2 separate regions of the Homo sapiens genome follow, and region 1 is linked to region 2. The links come from fine-mapping of genetic effects on gene expression. Tissue or cell type: cerebellum. Region 2 holds a variant in brackets; the other region holds the start of a gene. All regions are shown on one strand. Distances are from middle to middle.

What was found. PIP is the estimated chance that this variant, and not a neighbour inherited with it, causes the effect.
Region 1: H2BK1 starts here. The variant in region 2 is fine-mapped to the expression of H2BK1 in cerebellum (GTEx, PIP 0.96).

What each region holds. Positions count from the first base shown.
Region 1 is chr7:151,209,137-151,211,818 of GRCh38, reverse strand. It overlaps H2BK1 (H2B.K variant histone 1), which reads left to right and starts at 1,331. Exons shown (of 2, transcript NM_001369125.3): 1 at 1,331-1,632. The coding sequence starts at 1,501. It overlaps ABCF2-H2BK1 (ABCF2-H2BK1 readthrough), which reads left to right. Exons shown (of 17, transcript NR_160983.1): 16 at 611-702. ABCF2 (ATP binding cassette subfamily F member 2) reads left to right here. Exons shown (of 15, transcript NM_007189.3): 15 at 1-335.
Region 2 is chr7:151,315,312-151,317,993 of GRCh38, reverse strand. No RefSeq gene overlaps it. Among named protein-coding and RNA genes, the nearest start is that of NUB1, 25 kb to the left of the region's middle. The variant G/A (reference allele first, on the strand shown) is at 1,592.

The DNA.
Region 1 (2,682 bases), 110 kb after region 2:
CTTTATGCCTTAAGTGGGGCCTGGAGCAAAATGGCCCAGGTTAGTCTGTCCTGAGAGTCCAGAGCCTTGGTTCAGGGGAGAATGGCATCTGGAGAGTGGGCTGCTGGGATAATGGGGACAGTGAGGGACAGAGCCCTTGATACTTAAGGAAGTGCTGGATATTGCTAAGAATTCAGGTAGTCTCGGGATCTCCAGAGTCTCCATACTAGGACAGGAGATCTTCAGAACCTGGAGGAATGGAAATAGTCTAGTCAGCTTATTTGTCAAGAAAAATGTCAACCTTGGTAATTTAAATAATGCTTTAAAAGTCCACAAAATACATATTTCTAAAATTAGCAGTGCCTTGTTTTGGATTGAGAAGTGGCCTGTTAATTCTCTTAAACCTTAGCCCGTAGGATGTGGCCAGCCGTTCAGAGCTGGGTGGAGAGGTAAGTTGATTGAGGGGTTGCTAGCTTTAACACAGCCAGCAGGTGATGCTGGTCTTTGGAACCCTTCTCCCACCTCTCAATTTGTAACATCCTCTTTTCCCCCAAGCCCCTATACCTTTCATATTGCTCCAGGTTTCTTTAATCACAGCATTCAAGGGCCTGAAGTATTTGTTCCCCCATAGGTGCTAAGTGAGACAATTGACTTTCTCCATTTTGCAATGGGCTTTTCTTCCCTTTACTGCTAACTCCCAAGACCGCCACGTCTGCTTTTCTGGTGAGCACCTATTGCTTTTCTGCTTCTCACCTCCTCCAGTGGTCTTCCTCCCTGTCAGCCTCTTCACCACCTGGGGAGCTTCTGCTATCTGCATCTAGTCCAGGCTCAGGCGTTTTGCTCATCTGCCTTCAGTCCAAGCCTCATTATACTCCGCTCACACTGATTCCACTCTACCTTTCACACCGTTTCTTTCTCTCATTCTTCCCAATTAAAGGATACATCCTACAAGGATACATCCTACAATGGGTATATGAAGGATACCCTTCATATACCCATTTGTACCAAGAAGCGGCCTCTAGCTACTCGAGCCCTCCTCACCATGGGTACCACCACTTTTAGCCCCTTCACCCTTCTCTGGTGGTTTGATGTGAACCAGTCTTGTCTCTTCACCTCCACTGGGGCGCAGTGGGGGAGGGAGCTTGCATTCCTTCTGGAGTCTGCAGCACTCTGAGCTGTGCTGGCACCTGTGTGCTCCGTGATTACAGGCTGGTGGGCTGGAGTTGCCTGAACTTTTAAGAAGTGCGTAAATACACTGGGAGATGGTTGGGTGGGGGAGGGGACCCGGTGAAGGGTTTCTTAATTCAGAGGGATTACTTGTGGGAGAGGAAGGAACAATTAGTCTCTTTTCAAGGTTAGCCCAGAGCATGTTCAGGATTGGGATTGAGTCACGCCCCTTACCTCCCACCTGCCCCCCCCCCCCCTCCCAGGTGCATGTCCCCAGCCACACCTGGTGGGGCAGCTGACTTGATAAAAAGTAGCTCCAAGGGGGTGGGTGAGGGCTATTCGAGAAGCAGGAGGATGAGCGCTGAGTATGGACAGCGGCAGCAGCCCGGGGGCCGTGGGGGTCGCAGTTCTGGGAACAAAAAGTCCAAAAAGCGCTGTCGGCGCAAGGAGTCCTACTCCATGTATATCTACAAGGTGCTGAAGCAGGTGAGTGCATAGCAAGGATGTGTGTGAGGGATGCCCTCACAAAGCGCCTTGAAAGGGCACTGGCTGGAAGTGGGGACCTTGAGGTTAGTGTTGGCACTGGGGCAAGTGGCTCAGGCAGGCCTGGCCCCTCTTGAGGTGGCGGGACCTGGTTTTTGAGGTCTCCACCTCTCTCAGGATCTTGGGCACCGGTGATAGGAGACAAAGCGTGCTCCCTGCCACCCTCCAGAAGTTTACGGGAACGATGATGAGATAACGTGATTAGGTGGGACATAATTAAAGGACAAGAGGACCACACTTTCTATGCCAGGCTGAAGGTGATCAGGTGCCAAACACATTATGATACAAAGTGTGTTGGTGACCGAGAAGAGGAGTGATCAGGGTGAACTGGAGTCTTGGGGAAGGTCTTCTGGACAAGTGGCACTCAGTTCTTTGAGGGGCTTAGGGTTTGTCCACCTTATAGACAAACAGCTTGAGGCCCCTAAAGGCTCCATGGGGTTCCTGCATCACATGGCCTGACAGTGGCAGTGTCCCAGTTCCCCTGGCTCTGGGCAAGCCCCTAGCATCCTTCCTGTGTGTCCGTCTCCCCAACACACTGGGGCTGCAGGTGCCCTATATTCATGCACGAAAAGCAGCTACTCCCAGGACTTGGAACACTGACAATCAATTTGTCTGGAGGATCCAAAGCTGCTGCTCAGCAGGGCCAAGGCCAGGAGGAGGCGGGGGTAGCCATGTGTTGCCCGCCCTGGGTCTCCAACCTGCTTGAAACTCTTACCCCTCTGTTAGAGCAGGCCCCAGAGGTAATGCCTGTCTCCAGTCCAAATCCCATTAGCGGTTTAGTGAATTGACAACCTGGGTGCCTGGGAATGCTCTTGTGGGGTTGGGGGTGGGTGGGTCCAGCACTGATATGGGTTGGCTGAAGAGATGCACCAGAGGACAGACTCTGGTGCCCTGAAGAAGGTGGGGTAGGAGTGGGTATCGCTGAGCCTTGTGTCTTAGCCCGACTTTGAGGGGCAAAAATTGCAACTGATGGGTGGGACAAGGCCTGTACTC
Region 2 (2,682 bases):
TCTCATGCCTTAGCCTCTGAGTAGCTGAGACCACAGGTGCAGGCCACCATGCCTGGCTTTTTTTTTTTTTTTTTTTTTTTTGTATTTTTTGGTCAAGACAGGGTTTCGCCAAATTTCCCAGGCTGGTCTTGAACTCCGGAGCTCAAGCAATCCACCCATCTCAGCTTCCCAAAGGGCTAGGATTATAGGTGTGAGCCACTATGCCCAGCCTTGACTCCTCTTTTGAAATGGTTATATCATCTGCCTAGTTTCCACATGAATTAAATAAAACCTTTAACAGTGTTCATTTTTAACCTGAAGAAGAGTCATGGTTTTACTTTTTTCCCTGAAATTTGTCTTTCAATGCTTCTGTGCCATGGACAACAGATAGCAACTGCGCATCCAGGCATCGTGCTTGTGGTTCAGACCAGAGGAAGCGGGGAGGGCAAAGAATGGAAACCACTTGCCCACCAAGTCTGCCCATTTTTGTCAGGCAAATAGTAGTAGCTCGTCCAGAATCCCCATCCCTTAGACTCCCTCACACCTGACTGCCTAGAAAAATGCCACATAGACACTCCTAATTGCAAGGGATCTTGGGAAATCATTGCCTACCCACTACAGGAAAAAAAAGAAAAAGGTAATCTGTGAGCAAGGAAGAAGAGAATGGGCGCTCAGTAGGCAACCAGGCTGCATCAACAAGGACCCACTCCAGACAAAGCTTTAGACAGAGCTTCAGATGACCTCGCTCTTGTGTGCACATTCCCCCATCCTCCCATCCGACCTCCTTACCCCCACCCGTGCGCTCATCTTGAAGCCACTAATGACCACGCTGCTGCAGCGTCTAAGTGATTTATCCTCATGTAGCCGATTTTTAGTGGGGTACCCCCAAAGGAGTAGTACAGAGGAGTCCGTGTTAGGGACAGAATTGCTGTCATCAGGACGGCTTGTAAGGGAGCTTTGGTGGGAGCTGGGAAAGAGGGGCGTCTTTCCTTCCTTCCCCACTCCACTGGCCGATGCCTGGATTACCAGCAGATCCCTATACCACCTGGATGCAAGGCTGGCCCAAGAGAAGATTTGCTGAATATCTTGAGAATGCTATTTGATACATTTTTCTTACTTTTTCATTATTAAAATTGTTTTCAAATAATAAAATAAAATGAGAGAAGAAAATGAGAAAATTATATTTTAAGTAATTTTCCTTACCTAAAATAGAACCATTATAACATGTTAAAGTTTTCCAGAGTTTTCTCTCTAATAAGAGCTTTTCTTACAGTCATCATCCCAGGTGTGCAAATTTTTAACCTATTTTTTTAATTAATGTATCCTAAGCATATTTTATTTTATTTTATTTTATTTTATTTTATTTTATTTTATTTTATTTTATTTTATTTTATTTTATTTTATTTTATTTTATTTTATTTTATTTTATTTTATTTTATTTTATTTTATTTTATTTTATTTTATTTTATTTTATTTTATTTTATTTTGAGACGGAGTCTCACTCTGTTGCCCAGGCTGGAGTGCGGTGGCAAATCTCGGCTCACTGCATGCTCCGCCTCCCGGGTTCAAGCTATTCTCCTGACTCAGCCTCCGAGTAGCTGGGATTACAGGC[G/A]CCCGCCACCACACCCAGCTAATTTTTTGTATTTTTAGTAGAGACGGGGTTTCACCATGTTGGCCAGGCTGGTCTCAAACTCCTGACCTCAAGTGATCCGCCCACTTTGGTCTCCCAAAGTGCTGGAATTACAAGGCATGAGCCACTGTGTCCGGCCTTAAGCATCTTTTATGTTATTTCATACCTTCATTAATATAACTTCAGTAGCTACTTCATATCTCCCCACGTGGACATAACCATAGATTAGTCAATCGTACCCTATTACTGGTCATTTAAGTTTGTATTAGCTAGAAGACAGACTTACCTGTAATCCCAGCTACTTGGGAAGCCGAGGCACAGAATCACTTGAACCCAGGAGGAAGAGGCTGCAATGAGTTGAGATTGCACCACTGCACTCCAGCCTGGACGACAAACTGGAGTGAAATTAGCAAAAGTGCAGGAAGCATTGATTTTTTTTTCTTTGAGACTCTGTCTCAGAAAAAAAAAGTCTCACCATCAACATCTATAATAATAAAGAAAACGAAGAACTAGAATCGATGTTTATAATGCGTCTTACTCTAGCACAGAGATACGTAAGCTAGGAAATAAAAACAACTTCATTCACCTCATTGAGAGATGCATTTCCAATAAAAACGTACTTTTTATGTTTAACAATTGTTAATTAGTTTGTCACATATTTATTCTGTTTTAATCAAATATCCATAATGGTGATGATAACTGTAAGCAGAAGGTAACGTTTCCATAATTACAGACCTGATCACAAAGGTACCGCTTCCTTCAATTTCAATGTATAAACATATTTTCATTGCTGAGAAGTATGAGAGGTATAAGCCATATGACTTTCACACATAACATATATTAGGATAAAAGTTTATGAGGGAGGTGGATGGAAAGAATGGTTAAAGAACTCATTTACGTATGTTTAAATGGTGGGTGCCAGAGTGATACGATGCCTGCATATCACTGAACACACAGCCAAGAGTCACATGTTTTATTTTCAAAATATTAATATTTTTAATAAGCTGGAAGTTGCATGCTTTTCAGCCATTAAACCTGGAGGAAAATTTTTAGGTGCAAAATGGAAAACTCTG